2 separate regions of the Homo sapiens genome follow, and region 1 is linked to region 2. Evidence: fine-mapped expression QTL. Tissue or cell type: whole blood. Region 2 holds a variant in brackets; the other region holds the start of a gene. All regions are shown on one strand. Distances are from middle to middle.

What was found. PIP is the estimated chance that this variant, and not a neighbour inherited with it, causes the effect.
Region 1: it holds the start of RASSF4, and the variant in region 2 is fine-mapped to the expression of RASSF4 in whole blood (INTERVAL, PIP 0.98).

Annotation. Positions count from the first base shown.
Region 1 is chr10:44,955,645-44,963,734 of GRCh38, forward strand. RASSF4 (Ras association domain family member 4) reads left to right here and starts at 4,158. Exons shown (of 11, transcript NM_032023.4): 1 at 4,158-4,222. It overlaps TMEM72-AS1 (TMEM72 antisense RNA 1), which reads right to left and starts at 4,045. Exons shown (of 8, transcript NR_033842.1): 1 at 3,948-4,045. RefSeq lists an enhancer at 3,837-4,131 and a silencer at 3,909-4,128.
Region 2 is chr10:44,990,311-44,998,410 of GRCh38, forward strand. RASSF4 (Ras association domain family member 4) reads left to right here. Exons shown (of 11, transcript NM_032023.4): 9 at 638-759; 10 at 1,595-1,692; 11 at 2,959-5,581. The coding sequence ends at 3,019. It overlaps LOC124902530, which reads left to right and starts at 3,726. Exons shown (of 3, transcript XM_047426129.1): 1 at 3,726-3,861; 2 at 4,495-4,631. The coding sequence starts at 3,726. ZNF22-AS1 (ZNF22 antisense RNA 1) reads right to left here. Exons shown (of 4, transcript NR_126421.2): 4 at 3,622-3,896. RefSeq lists enhancers at 692-1,383, 1,413-1,914, 1,915-2,414. The variant C/CT (reference allele first, on the strand shown) is at 4,420.

The DNA.
Region 1 (8,090 bases), 35 kb before region 2:
CTTTATCAAGCTCTTAGGCTCTTATGAGCTTCCCTACTTGCGAATTAAACATAAATTTATCCTTTGCGGCTCTTTCATAAAAACACTGGCTCATGAGTGTTTCCATTTGTCTTTTTACGGATCTTACAAGTCAGTCCAAACTGTTTGCAGAATAACAGCATTTCCTAAGTCTTTCTGAGGTAGGAAGGCCAAAAAGAATGCAATTGCCCAAGACGAACAGGACACCCTGCTCACTTAATGGACTCCCAAAGGCCTCCTTTACTGGGGCGGCGCCCTGGAGCAAGGAGTCTTGCAGGAACTTCTGTGTGGCCTTGGCTCCCCTGAGACCCAGTGTGTTCCATTAGAGGTAGATGTTGTTTTTCCCTCACTCCCGGGTGGTACAGACACCACCACATTGGGCCATCAGGCACAAACCTGGACTCTGCCACTATCTGCACATGTCATTTGGAGGGGGAACTCAGCCTCCCTGAGTTTGTTTTCTTACCTGAATCTGGCAAAAAGAAAAAAAAAAAATCAATCATACATCAGATATTGATTAAACACTGTGACAATCCAGACAGAATCAGTTTTTAAGGAAACATAGTGTCTCTTCCTCTAGGAGCTCATGATAAAGACTGGAATATACAGCATGCCAGAGTGGTATGCGTGGGTCAGGGACGGGCATTTTACAGAGGGCCCAGGGACGACCTGAAAAAGGAGGTGATTTGTGATTAAAGACCTGAAGCAGGGGAAGGAGGGAGCGCTGTGGACATCTGGGGAAAGAGCCCTCCAAGGGAAGGAATGACCCTGACAGGAACAGGCTGGGTGTGTGGGAGAAACAGTGTGATCAGAGCAGGGAGAAGGAGAGGCAGTAGGAGGAGATGAGGTCAGAGAGACAATTAGGGGACAAGATCATCTAGGGAAGGGGTTGGCACACTATAGCCCTGCCATCCATTTTTTAAAATAGTTTTATGAGAACCACAACCATGTCCTTTGGTTTACATATTGTCTATGGCTACTTTCAAACTACCCCAGTAGTGGTGAGTAGTTGTGACACGGACCATTTAGCCCACAAAGCCTAAAATATTTACTATCCAGCCCTGTACAGAAAAGGTTTACCAACCTCTGCCTTGAAGAAATAGGGGCTAATTTTTCTCCATGGTAGGGAGTCTGGAGTAGGCAGTGCAGGGTTGGTGCAGAAGCTCCATGATGTTAAGAAGGATCCAGACACCTTTGATCTTTATGCTCTGCCAGCCTCAGCATGCGGACATGTTGCTTTATGATCTCAACATGGCTGCCAGTGCTCCAGACATTACACATCATGTCCTCATTTGAGACAGGCAGGCAGGAGAGACATCTGTTCTTTCTACCAGAAAAGCAAAAGTTATCTTCACCATCCCTCAGATCTCTCCTCCCCCAGGACACCTTCCCCCATCTCTGCGTCCAGAAGTAGGTCGTATGGCCACTTCTAGCTTCACTGAAAAAAAGCTATGAAAAGGATTGTCAAGACTTAGACAGCTGTTTTGTTTTTTTTAACTGTAACCCACAGTAAGAAGCACACATAACTGAAACATAAACAATGCAAACAAAAAGTTCCACAAAACACAACTTATATTTACTATTTGTGCTGTACACTGGTATTTTCCCTTGCATTTTTGAAGTACTAGTCACATCATCAACTAAATTAATTTCATGACCCACTATTGGGTTGTAAGTAGAGTATGAAAAATACAAGTGGGCATGAGCCATAACTAGGGGCTGGCATGTTGCTGCTACAGACAAGTGGGTATTTCTCTCTCCTTTCCTTCCCTCCCTCCCTCTCTCTTTCCTCTCTTCCCCATTCCCTCTTTCCTCCCTCCCTCCTTCCTTCCCTCCTTTCCTTCCTTCCTTCCCTCCTTTCCTTCTTTCCTTCCTTCCTTCCGTCCTTCCTTCCTTCCTCCCTCCCTCTTTCCCTTTCTTCCTTCCTTCCTTCCTTTTTGTCCTTTTCCTTCTTTCCTATCTTTCTTTTTTCCAAAGAAGGAAATGGACATTGGCTGGCAACCAACAGTATCTGTAGCCTCCACCATAAGTGAGCTGGAGACCACACCCAGTTCTACTGAACCCTGAAAGAAAAGGTGACCCCTCCTTCTGAGGGGTCTGACAATGGACCCTCCCCTTCTGAGGGGAGGACGCTGACAATGGACACCTGTGTCTGATGTAAAATGCAAGCACTCACAGCCATAAAAGAGAATAAAATCGTGTCCTTTGCAGCAGGATGGATGTGGCTGGATGCCATTATCCTAAGCGAACTAATGCAGAAATAGAAAAGCAAACACCACATGTTCTCGCTTACAAGCAAAAGAGCTAAATATCGGGTTCACCTAGACATAAAGATAAAAACAATAGACACTGGGGACTTCAAAAGTGGGAGGGAGACAGCGGGGCGAGGGGTGAAAAACTTCCTATTGGGTACTATGCTCACCATCTGGGTGACAGGATCAATCCCAAACCTCAGTACCACACAATGTACAATTGTAACAAACCCGCACGTGTATCCCCTAAATTTAAAATAAAAATGGAAATTTTAAAAAATGCAAGCAGTAACACCAACTGCCCAGGAGTGCTGGGGGAATTGCATGGGATCCCCAATGTAAAGCACTAGCATAGTGTCTGAGCCCACAATGGGTGCACAGGACACATGGGGTTGCTGTCCCAAACCCAGTCCTCACTCAGAGCCAGTCATGGCCCTGTGAACAGCATTAATTAGGTCAGAGAGAATGATTCACACTCGAGTTCTGGAGAGCCCAGGGAAACTGTTATGTCACCCTGGTGCTATGTTTACTTCTCCTATCAGGAGTGATTAAATTCTTAGGATCTCATGCTCAGAGGTTGACAGTTATATTGAATTTTACCCACTTTTAAAAAACCTTTGGAAGCACCCGATTATTTGTCTCAGCTTTGATGAGGGCTGTGGAAGAGCAAATGTGTCATGACAAGTCACCAACCACAGGGAGCCTCAGAGCTGTCAAAGGATGGGCCATTCTCCAAAAATTCAAGCAAACGCAGAAACGGGAGGGCCCCTGGACTGGGTATCTTCAGTCCTGTCACTTTTTGCAGGTGGGGGTTCCAACATAAGTCATACAGCAGCCATACAAGCATTAGCACAGCCCCTCTAAGTCGAAGTTCAGGGACCCATGAGACTCAAATCCCAGGCTGATTTTGGTGCATATGGCCACCTGCACTTTCTAGAAGATCCATATCAGATTCTAAAATGGCCATGAGACCCTAAAAATATTAGGAAACGCACACTGAATGAAACTAAAATGATTTATGTTAGGGGTGGGAGAGAACAGGTCCAGAGGTCAGAGCTGGGAATCGTGAGGTAAAGCAGAAATTGCAAATGTTTTCCATCAACCCCATCCCCCACCTTGACACCCCCACACCCCAGAAACACTGAACTGTTCCCAGTTCCCCAAATGGCTTGTGGTTTTCTGTCCTCTCTGCCTCCGTGCTGGCAAATATTCGTCCAGGAGGCAGTGACTGGGAGAGAAAGACTAACTTCTTATTCACCAGATCGGATTTCTTAAACAATAAGGAGTTCTAAGAGGCCATGCCAAGCAAACGGCCAGACTGTACAAAGGTGCCCCTTGAGCAATAAATAGCAAATGCTCTGGGCTTTACTGATAAGCCTCCCCAGACTCCAAGCCCCACCAGGCATGCAGACAAGTGCCTGCAGTGATTGCAGCGCCTGCGCAGCGGCCCTTGTTGGAAGTCCAGGAGTCCGCGCTACCCCGCAAAGTCCCTGGCCGCTGCCCGCACACCGAACCTCTCGGGGCTGAGTCGGGCTGCTTTCTCCTCGCGTCCCGGGGCGCCCTCGGGAACTCGGGAGCGCGCGGCGAGCTGAACAATGGCCTGGGGACACCTGGCAGGTCGCAGGCCCCAAATCTTCCCCGCCGCCCCTAGGCCACCGCCCTGCACCCGGAACCTACCGGCGTTCCCAGAGCGGGGCGGACGGGGCGGTGCCATTGGCCGGTGCGGAGTGAGGGGCGTGCTCGGGGCGGGACGGAGAGACCGGGGCGGCACCTTTGGCCGTGCCGGGCGAGAGGCGGGGAGCGGGGCGGGGCGAGGGGCGAGGGGCGGGGCGAGGGGCGGGCCTGGCCCCGAGCAGCTGAAGCCTGGGGTCAGCAGGCGCTGCGGGCGCAGCTCCGGTGCAAGCGAGGACACGACACATGCAGTGGCTTCTGGACTGCGCGATGACTGGACGGTGAGTGATGAACGAGCAGGAGAGTGCTTGGGCGTCCATGGAGCATCCCCTCCGACCCAGGACTGCCACCAGGCAGGGACGCTGAAGCCTGGGCACTTGTGCCCTTCGGCCGCAGCGCGCAGGGTCCCTCCCCCGCCAGCCTGGCGCATTGCGGGCCTCGGGCTCATTGCTGAGAGGGGGCACTGCGCCTGGCACCTCTGTTAAGCAATTTAGGGGCTACAACCTGAGCAAGACAGATGAGCCCGGCCACTGGCTACACCTTTTTTGTTCACCTTGTCCTTAACCAGTTTCCTAGAAGCACTGATCCTAGAGTTGGGGAGAGAGCCTAGAGGCCTCTGGCACAACTCTGATTTCACTGATGGAAATCGAACGCCAAGATAATAGCAGCAGGGGGGGTCTGTCTCACAATCGCTGTCTGTAGAGGGCTCGCCTTGCTCTGGGCCAAGTGCTTTAACACGATATGCCTCTTACTCCTCACAGCAAGTGAGAGTCCTACTTTCGTTATCCCCTTTTCAGATGTGAAAACTGAGGCTTAAAGAGTTATAAAATTGTCCACCTTTACCGGATGAGTTGGTGATGGAGCCAGGATTTGAACCCAGGGCTTGTTGTGCCCCTGAGTCTCTTGCTCTTCACCCTTAGTCTCCGAAGGTCAGCCTGCCTGCTGCCCTGCTCTTCTGGGCTCCTGACTCCGGTCCCATCCTGCACTTCCCACTTCCAAAACATGCCTCAGTGTTTTCATTAACCTGGCACGGCGGAGGGAGGGAGGCCTCCTCTCACACCAGAATCAGTGCCCAGGCCAGGGCCAGCACTTTCTTAAAACACAGTAAGGACAGCTTCAGGAGCCCCATTTCACATAGGAATTAAATAAGGTCGCACAGCAAATAAGGGCTGGGCTTCTGGAATTTGAACCCAAGCAGGTTAGACTCCAAAGCTATGCTTTGCACTCACAGAGGAGCCCCTCGCTGGCTTTGCTGTAGTTTAACTGCCCACAGTACTAAGGTGTCAATCAGGATTTGTTGCCAGAAACCATTTTTTTTTAAGTTAGAAGTGAATTGGTGAAGTAACAGGTAAATGTAGACCATCCTGCCTTCTGTTCCTCTGTGTGGTTCCTTAGCTACTTCTGCCAGGACAGCAGGTTAGGGGAGAAGACAGGAAGGGAGAGGGTCAGAGGAGAAAGAGGAAGGGAGGGAAGAGGAGAGATGAAACTCATTAAACTTAGGTTAAAAAAATGCTGGCCGGAAATTGTCATGGGCTGTTTCAGCACTTTGTCAGTGTATGTGAAGGCTGTTGTCATTAGTTCTAGCCATAATTCTCTCAGTGTGTAGTGCTGGTGATTTGACAACAAAAAGGTTGATGCTACAGATTAAAGTGTCTGTCTGAAACTCAGGAGATTGGGTTGTATTTCCACCATGAAGCTCCAGTGGGTAGCCTGGAGGTCGAGAACAGAATCAAGGTCCAGGGTCGCCCTGGGTCAGGACCAAGTGGACCATGACAGATAACAAAGAACATGAACGAAACTTGGGTGTGTGTCAGAGTTCAGATTCTGGACGTGCAAAGCCTCAAAGGGGAGACCTAACTAGGGGATCTGCCAGAAAGCCCTCTGCCCTGGGCCCCTGGGGTCTGGGGCCTGGTTTCAGGTGTCAGCTCAGACTCTCTCCTCATTCATGGCCACTCCTGCAGGCAGGCCTCACATTCCCATCTCTGGGGCTCCACAGTCTCTCCAGAGCCCCCAACTCCCAGTGTCAATAAGAATAGTAATGGGAGCCTCTTTTCATTATGGGTGAGCCCAACACAAGGCCCATCTTACAGGTCTCCTCATTCGTCTTCACAGAAGTCATCGAGGATTATAGTTATTTAATTGATGAGGAGCCCAAGGTTCAGAGAGGGAACTGGACTTGCTTAAGGTAACAGAGCCAGGCAGTCACAGAGCAGAGCTTTAAACCCAGAGCCTTGCAAAGGCTAGGTGGTTATTCTCTCACAGAGTATGTTTGGGGAAATTGTTTTAAAATAAAGAAAATCAAATAAGAAGTGGCTGCACTTCCTAAAGCTTCAACAGTTTTCTTATTTTTGTAAAAGAGAAACTTGTAGTTCCCGGGGTCTCCTTTTCTGGCTGTCCCACCTTCTGCCCTAGGATATACTGTTGAGGAAGAGGCCCGGAACCCCCTCCCTTTGCCCTGCCTGACCTTGGGAAGCAGGGGTGGGGTGTCATTGAGCCCCATAGCTGCAGTGCTGGGAAGAGCCCTGAAGACTCTCTATCAGCTGCCACAACAGCTCTGGCTAAACTGATGCCCAAGAGACGGCGCAACACGCTAGGATCACAGGCCAAGTTAATGCCACAGCAAAACTCACATGCAAGGCTCTACAACGTTCCTCTGCCTCCTCTTTCTTGCTGTGACAGGTTTCAGCAGAGATTCTAAACCTAAGATCTGGGGATCTGGGAGTACATGGACAAGAGCTGTCTCATCTCCCTGCAGTGATATGCAAATTGTGTGTGTGTTTGCACGTGGATGCAGATTGCAACAACATGCACATACATGCATTTTCTGGGGAGAGTGCACTAAGCTTTCAAGAGACTCCAAAGGACTCTATGACCCAAAAGATTCTGGGACCCTTTTGTCTCACAGGGCCCTTATGTCCCCAGCAGTGACATGTGGCACACAGGCCTGGGGCAGTGGACAGCACAGGTGAGGGCAGCCGTAGAGAGCCTCCAGAGCAGCCCTGCAGCAGCAGGCACCCAGAGGGGTCTGCCCCTCTGCATTGCACTCCCAGCCCCAGGCAATCGGGATATTGGACAGTGCCCATTTTGAGCACGTTTGGCCCGAAAACCATAGCTAAGAAGATCTTTGTTTCTGTGGATCTTCTCTTCCATAGGCTAGAGGTGAGCCTGGTTGGTGGGGAAGTTGAGGAGTGGTTCAGGGGGTTCCAGGAGCAGAGAATGTATGTTTAAGGTGTAAGGGGGGAGCAGGAGGACTGGAAATGGTTTTCTTGTCCCAAATTGCTTTGCCTTGAAACAAGGGCAGAAGCCAGAAGTCTTGCCCACTGGGAAGGCTGGTCTGCGATCTACATGGCTGCTCAGGGCCAGGCTCTCAGAGGAAGGGGAGCTGTATCAGGGAGGCCTGGATGCTGGACTGGACTCAGAGAGACCTGTCAGTGAGAGGCCAGAACCGCAGCGGGGAGTAAAGGTGAGCTGGGCCTGTGTGGTCAGTCCAGGGCAAGGCGGGAGTGGAGGTGGAGGGGAGCTCTGTGCCCGCCTCTCCTGGACTCCCCTGGTCTCCATCACCTCCACCTGGACAGTGCAGAGTCTTCTGGGGCAGGGAGGAGTGAGTTGAGCCAGAGGGATGATGGCGGGAGTGGAGAGGAGGGGTCTGGTGATTGGAACTGGGCAGCAGGAGGGGACAGCAGTGTGGAAGGAGGTGGGAGCAGCAGCTGCTGAGTCGCCGCCTGCCATCTACAACCAGACAGCCGGCTCTCACCACAAAAATGCTTGGCTGAGGGTACCCCCTCAGAGGCACCTGGTTTCGGCAGACGCTGCAACTTCTTCACTGGCCAGGCTCCTGCCATTTGCTGGCGAACAGGTGCTGGGAGGGGCCTTTTAAAGCTTCATTGTCCTCTGTGCCCTGCTGCCGTTGTGGCTGGCAATTCGAATGTGGTAGCCACAGACTGCAGTCAGGAACTTAGTCCCCCCAGGAATGCCGTCAGCGTGGCCTGCACCTGCTCTGTGGCCTGCACTTGCTGTCCTCCACCAGCGGGAGCAGCTCAGGCTCCCAGCTGTGCCCCACACACTTGTCCTCCTTTCTTTTGCTTCCCAGGTCACTTTCGTTATGACCTATTTGATTTAAATCACGCTGAAATAAGAAAATAAAAATCA
Region 2 (8,100 bases):
CAGATTAAGGAGAAGAACAAACAGAAGTTTGTTAACACTTGCATCATGCATGCCCTTTGGAATATCCAGGGATGAATGGTCAGAATTTGGGCTTAAATAGCATATTCACAAAAGAGCAGTAAGTTTTTAGAGAAGTGACAAGACAGAGGAGAAGGGCCTGAGTTTCTGGGGAGGCGAAGGGTGGGAAGGTCACCGCACGGGGAGCTGCGGGAAGGGAAGGGCTTCAGCGGGACGTGCTGTGCAGGTTCCTCTGGTGCCCTCTCCAGGCTGAGGAGGGGCTCGGGTTGTCTCTGGTGATTAACTCCATCATTGCCTAGAGAGGGACGGGGGCACACCTTGACAAATTTATGTCCTGCTTTTTGGCAAATAGGGGAGGGCAAAGAGCCTCACTTGTATCTTCTTCTTCTCAATTGCCAGCCGCTCCACTTAATCCTTATGCCAAAGTGGCAGATCTGGGGGCCCTGTTCTGCCTCCCTTCTGCATGAGCAGGAATCTCTCAGGGCAGCGCTGTTAGCGAGGTCTGTGTTCTTAGGGTTCCCTGCGCCCCTAGACGCACATTTTCTATCAGTTCCTAATCTGGAACAGACAGAGGTGATCCTAATCTCCCGTGATTTTTGTAAACCACCTTCTTTTTCAGAGCGGACAAAATTAAAAGACTGCGAGTACCCGCTGATTTCCAGAATCCTGCATGGGCCATGTGAGAAGATCGCCAGGATCTTCCTGATGGAAGCTGACTTGGGCGTGGAAGTCCCCCATGAAGTGAGTGGGGGCCAAGGCTGGGGAGGCCTGCTCTAGGGTGAGGGGTTCTTGGGTGACGGGGCCTCCCAAGGACTCCTGGCCAGAGCCCTGTCAGTTGATGTCTCCAGGAGCTCCACACTCTCCCAAAGGGCTCCCAGCCTAGCACAGGGAGGCGCCAGCCCTCCCTCTCCCATCAGTGACCGCCAGCACCAGCAGCTTAGGGGAAAGAAGAATTTGGGTCCTATAAAACCATGGCCTGTCCTTTTCCTCTAGGGAAGTAAAGTCTTTTCCTTCATTGGAATGTATTTTGTTGTCATTATGTGAGAGACCTATGCAAAGGCTTTTTAACTAGGCCCTACCTCGCACCTGTGGAAAACAGGGAGATATTTAAGTCTTACCAACAGCCTGAGTTCTGACCAGACAGTGAGTGCATTTCCAAACTCCTCTGCATAGAAGATGCTTACAGGGTTTGAACCTCAAGTAGGAGGCCTAGTGACCCCGTATCCCTCAGGCTGCTGCAATTGCATTCCATTGTTAGAAACAATGGTGCTCCCACCTCCCTACCCCCTAGCCCAGAGGGCACCCAATGTGACAATGCTGCTGTACTGAATGCTCTTCCTAATATTCAGTTTAATATTTCCTCCCAGGGATAACAGTTGCCTTTGAGATAGTAATAGGCTCCCGTCCTGGCATCTGTACACAACACAGCAGTGTGGGGGTGGGGTGGGAAAAGCGGCAGCTCCTTCTGTGGATACAAGATGTTGGCTGGATGGGCCACTATGGAAGCCTTGAGGAAAAGAAAACATACTTTTGGCTTCGAATTTAAAGCACATTAAAATGTTCTTGGATTTTCTAGGTCGCTCAGTACATTAAGTTTGAAATGCCGGTGCTGGACAGTTTTGTTGAAAAATTAAAAGAAGAGGAAGAAAGAGAAATAATCAAACTGACCATGAAGTAAGCAGCACTTAAACAGACAGTCATGGGTCCTGAACATCAGGGCAGGTCTGCAAAGCACAGCACCAGTGCCGGCTGGGAGGTCTCTCTCCTCCATGGGCACCAGTACCCTGGTACGGGAAGGCCTGCTAACCCTAGCTCCCCAGCATCACCCTCTGGCCCCCTGCTCGGTATTGCCACCACGCTGGGGTGACAGCTTGCCAAAACAGTGGGACACAGCCCCGATCACCCATCCAGTCTTGGCATCCTCACCAGCGCAGGCATGAGCTGCAGAACACCTGGCAGGAAAGTCAGGCAGGAACCCAAGTGGGCGCTGGGTCAAGCTTCTGAGTTCTGCTGGTGATGTGGCTCCAAGGAGCAGGCATGCTGAGGCAGACTTGGCCTGATTAGGGCCTTTTGTCCTAGTGGGAATTCTGAGCCTTCCCCAAAGTGGCAGATGCTGGAACTCCCAGCCTCAGCCGATGTTTTCAGGTGCAGAGGGCTAGTTCAATGAAAAGGTGAGCAGGTCTCACCTGCCAGCTCCTGGGGACACCACGCCAGGGTCCGGATGCATGAGTTAGCCAGGCTGTAGTCCCAATGACGTCTCCCCCTCAGCAAAGTGAAGTGTGGTCCAGGACTTGTGGAGGGCACCCCACCAGGGCTGGTGGGGAGGCAGCTAGGAAGGAAAGGGCAGGAGCTCACTGAGAGGGCCTGGGGTGTGTGGGGAAAGGATGGATGTTAGCCTCTGGTTGAATGACCCGTGGAAAGCCACATCCTCCACAGGCTCCTGTCTGTGCAGCCAGACCCCAAACAGGCAGAGGAGACCAAAGTCAGAGGGAATCTTCCATTCTGCAGTCAGTCCTGACCCCGTAAGATTTGAGAGCTGAAAGGGATCTGGGGGGCAACTAGTGGGTCCACTCAACGTACAGAGTGGACGCTGAGGCCCAGCACAAGGAAGGTTGCCGCATAGGTTATGGCAGAATCTGGGCTGAAACATGGGCTTCCCGATCTCTGCTCTACCGCCCTGTCCACTCCAGTGTGCTGTTGTCTGTATTAGAGTCTGCAATAGAAATGACAACACTCTGCTCTGATGCTCTGTGCAGTCCACAGCCTGGTTTGACTGCACCTCATGAGGCGCAGGCCACAGCCTTCCCCCTCCTTGGCAGAGGAGAGATGAGGCTGCTGCAGGGATCTCCTGAGCTGGCCATCTGCAGGTCCCTTGCTCTGCTGCCCACCTCCCTGCCCTGTCTGGCCTCAGTGAGTCCTCTTGGCGATGTCTCCCTCCAGGTTCCAAGCCCTGCGTCTGACGATGCTGCAGCGCCTGGAGCAGCTGGTGGAGGCCAAGTAACTGGCCAACACCTGCCTCTTCCAAAGTCCCCAGCAGTGGCAGGTGTACACTGAGCCCTGGTTGCTGGCCCCGGCCGGTCACATTGACTGATGGCCACCGCCTGACGAATCGAGTGCCTGTGTGTCTACCTCTCTGAAGCCTGAGCACCATGATTCCCACAGCCAGCTCTTGGCTCCAAGATGAGCACCCACAGGAAGCCGACCCAGGCCTGAGGGGCCAGGAACTTGCTGGGTCAGATCTGTGTGGCCAGCCCTGTCCACACCATGCCTCTCCTGCACTGGAGAGCAGTGCTGGCCCAGCCCCTGCGGCTTAGGCTTCATCTGCTTGCACATTGCCTGTCCCAGAGCCCCTGTGGGTCCACAAGCCCCTGTCCTCTTCCTTCATATGAGATTCTTGTCTGCCCTCATATCACGCTGCCCCACAGGAATGCTGCTGGGAAAAGCAGGGCCTGCCAGCAGGTATGAGATCTAGCCTGCTTTCAGCCATCACCTTGCCACAGTGTCCCCGGCTTCTAAGCCTCCAATATCACCCTGTGAGCCTCGCACAGCTCAGCCCCAACACAGAGGTGAGACCAGGAATAAGGCCACAAGTATCTCACTTTCTCTGCAGAAATCAATCTTTACTTCATCAGAGAGACCTAAAGCGATTCTTACAAGGAGCTTGCTGCAAGAAACACGGTCATTCAATCACATTGAGGAGGGTCCACATGGCATTGAGAGGGTGCTGCCCGCTCAATGCCCAGCAGCAGCTCTGGAAGGCAGTGCTCAGCCCCATCACCACTGTCCCGTGGATGCCTGTGTACCTCTTGCCTTTTCTGGGCTTGCGTTTCTCTCCTCTAGTGGGTGGGGATGACTTTCAATGACTTTCAATACTTCCCCTGAAGGAAGAATGATAAGGAGAAATGTCTGTTTTGAGGAAAGGGCTTTGAATTCCCCAGATACTGAACAATTTGTGTTTGTGACTGATGGAGAATTTCAGGAATGAATGAGAAAGCCTTTGCGAAACTATGCAACAGTTTACATCAGTCATGTGAAGTATTTGTCTAAAACAGAGCAAACTGAAGACCAAATTATTCTCCTGTTGAGGTCCGTGGATGGCAGATTTAAAGGGAAGAACCACAAAGGCTTGCAAAGATAGGAGAGGCTCCATCTCTAATGCATGTAGAAGCTCCTTACGGGTGCCCATCAAGAGCATAGCTTGGAAGCCACCATGCTGTGCGGAACTGCGTCAGGGCAAATGTCACAGCAGGATTTCCCCAACCCAGCTCCATCATCACAGACACAGAGAGCTGCAGGGGAGGCCTGCCCACTGTTTTGTCGACTCTGCCCTCCTCTGGCAGCATAGATCCTTAGGTGCTCAATAAAGGTGTGCTGTATTGAACTGAAGAAGTGAGAACCAAG[C/CT]TTTTTTTTTTTTTTTTGCTTTCTGTGCATCCACCCTGACCCCCGGCTCTAACTTCTGAAACTCTTATCCTAAAGGATGTGTGGCCATGTTTGGCAGAAGAGCCACAACTCGCTGCTCTAGGAGCCGACATGACTCCTTCATTTCTGTGCATGCCCTGGGGACTAGGGTGGAGCCTGAGGAGAGGCTGCCATGGAACACGCAGGCGTCACTGGTGGGAGCCTAGAGGTGACCTGGATGATGAGCAATAGAGTCACCCCGAGTCACAGAATCTTAGCATCAGGAGGGCCCCAAGAATCTTCCAGGCCAGGGGCTCAGGTGGGATGGAAGCAGGGCCTAGGAGAGGGTACAAAACAAATCAAACAGGAGCTCCCAGGTAATTGTACTCCCAAGCTATTATTTACAATCTCAGGTGGAGGACAGCTCCTGTCCCATTGTTCAGCTGTAACTGAGTGACTGCCTTGTGCCAGGCCTGTGCTCAGCCCTGGAGGCACAAAGATGGAGCCAGTCTGTCCTGTGTCTAGGGGTCTTCTCATCAGGAGAAGAAGGCCAGACACTGGAAGGGTCAAGAGATCAGCTGAGCAACGAACCGGCAAAGCTCCTGGGAGTGAGGTGGAGGCCAAGGCAGAGTTGGCTAAGAAGTGCATGTGGCGTCACAGGCCAAGATGCACCTGCCAGCTAGGAGCAGGCCAGGTCCTGGCACACAGGAAGCCAGTGGAGCAGGAGACCCTCCCTAAGTACCAGCCTGTTTGGTTGGTTGGTTTGCTTTTGAAAGTTATTACAATATTATTTAAGGCCTTTTCGGATAAGTTCACTTTTAAAGTAGGTGTTATCAATCTAATTTCTGAACGTTATGGGTCAGAAAAATCACTAGCAAGTGGCTCAGAAAAAGGGAAAAGGTACACTTCTGCAATCAGCTGAGGAGTTCACACCTTTTTTTCTAAATCAACATCATATTTGCTGTTCAGAGGCAATCTGAAAAGCTGCAAATTCAGCTCACCTCAACCCCATAATTTCAAACGTTAGAGGCTGGTCTCTGTGGTTTCCTACTGGTTCCTGTGGGGAGCTCCCGCTTTCTTTCTACATAGAGCTTAGGGTATTTCTCATATGCCCCATTGGCTACCTAGTGTCTCAGGTAATAAACGTATCCGAAGATAAAGCAAAGATTGCTATGGGAGAGTGTTGTCTCCTAAAATAGGACTGTCTTGCCAGGCCAGGCCTCAAGAACCAGAGAGAATAATAAACAGCACAGGATGAAATCAGCATGATTGCAAAAGGACTGGACTCAGGAAAAACAAGTTTGTTTGCCCAGAACAAATTACCAGAAGGGATCAAAAACATCTTGTTTTTCTTTGGTGATAACCATATGCTACCGGATTGGAATGTTTACCAGAAAATGGAATAAAGACCTTCCCACTGGCAAAATAGAGCCAGGGTTCACCCAGGATACATCTGGCCCCTTAGTCCCATGGAAACAAGGCCCAAAGCTTATCCAGTCTGACCAGATGATTTGTGGAGGAACCAGCCCTGCAAAATGTGTCCCGGGTGTGTAGGACGCAGGTGCCTTGCAGCTGCGGAGGGGCAGCGGGATATCCTTGCCAGGTGCAGTGGTGGGCAGCATCCCCCTGCCCTCAGTTCCTCAGTGGTGATCAGACAGGAAGCTTGGTCGATCAGAGCCAAGCAACTGAGTATAAAAACAGCCAGATGCATGGGCTATATTTAGGCCCTGAGAGCTGCGATTGTTTGGGATCAGGCTAGCTGCTCACGTGCCCTGCCTGAGACTCACGTTGTGCAGGGTAGGGCCCTGTGCCCTCCTGGTCAACTTTTAACAGAGATGTTTTCTCAGACCTAGGAATGGGAACTCCCAGGGTTTTCTTTCCCAGAGAGTCCAAAGGAAACAGAAAGCCAAGTCTCAGGCTTGGTGGAAAGAACCATTGTTCAGGATCCCTGGGCTGAGAGTTCTTGGTGGGAGACGGACCACTGTTGTTACCGCACATGAGCCACACCTATAACTGCCTTTCTGGCACTTGGGCTGGGGATCCATGTTGCCAAACACAGACCCAAGGCAGCAGTGCTCCCTGCTGAGACAGCGTGTGTGTGTGTGTGTGTGTGTGTGTGTGTGTGTGTCTGTGTGTGTGTGCGCAAGCCAGTGGTGTGCAGGGGACAAAGACATAGGAAAATGAAACTGTCTTGCCAGGATTTTTCTCACCCCAGAAGACTCTTTTTCCTGGAATGAACCCTTCAAATACCACTGGGCTCAGGGACACACTGGTCCCTGCTGGGTAGTTTCCCAGAGATGTCCCAGCCACTAAGGGATCTGGCCTCTCTTGGGCCAGAATCCCCAGAAATATGTGCAGAAAGATGCCCAGACTGTGTCCACCCCCTGCCTCCCACACCCTTGTTCCCTTTCTCCCTTGTGTTTTGTAAATATCATGCGTGACCATTTTCAATAATTTAATTTGCATAAAAATTGCCTAGAATCCCATTTGGGAGATAGACTGTTATAGAGAGGTTAATAGGCTCTGGAGCCAGGCTTTCTGATTTCAAAGTCTGGCTTTGCCACTTACAAATGTGCATGACCTTGGGCGAGTTTCTTGCCTCAGTTTTCTCATCTGTGAAATGGGGATTCTGTGTGGAAGAAAACAAAGTGCTTTCTACTATTCTCTCACTCAGCAGCAATAATCACAAAAGACTTCTGTGACCAAACGGGGTGAGGGATTCTCCCCACACACCAACCAAGCAATCATTTCTGCAGGGACACCAGCTGGGTGTCCTCTAATTCAGTTTTGACACTATCTACTTGGAGATGGCATCACCTCCCATAGGTTGAGGGCTCAGTCCCATAAGATGGTCTCCACCCTTCCCATTAGTTACAAGCCCTGGCCTCTGGAACTTGTGAACTACCCACTTCAAGTTGGGATTCTCGTGACCCCCTCCTTGGGTTAATTTGCAAGAGCGGTTCACAGAACTCAGCGAAACACATTTCCTGGTTTATTACAAATGATATTCCAAAGGATATAGAAAAAGAAATGCATATAGTGAGGTATGAAGGAAAGGGTGCGGAGCTTCCATACTCCTTCCCCTTTGCACCCCCCGACCCCAGGTGGCACCCTCCAGTAACATCCATGTGTTCAGGTATCCAGAAGCTCTCTGAACCCAGTCCTTTGGGAGCTTTTATGGAGACTTTGTAACACAGGCATGATTGATTAATCCATCAGCCATTGGTGATCCACTTCACCTTCAGTTGCCCTCCTCCCCAGATGTTGATGGGGTGGAGCTGAAATTGCCATCCTTCTAATCCTGCTGTGGTCTTTCCAGTGACCAGCCCCATCCTGAAGCTACCCAGGGGCTGCCAGGCATCAGTCAACTCATCAGCATATAAAAAGACATCACTTTGGAGATTCTAAGGATTTTAGAAGTTGTATGTCAGGAAACGGGGAGAAGATCAACTATGTATTTCACAATATCACAGGATAATAACAATTCCTATCTCTTACGGTTGGTGGGAGGTACATTAGTCAACTTTAATGCAATAATACCACCAAGAATCTCAGTGTTACAAGAGCATTTGTTTCTCTAACATTACGTGGGACCGTTGTGGTTACATGTGAGCTTCTGTGGCTCTGCTCCATGTGTCTTATCATCCTGGTTCCTAGACTAAAGGGGCAGCCCCTACTTGGGAC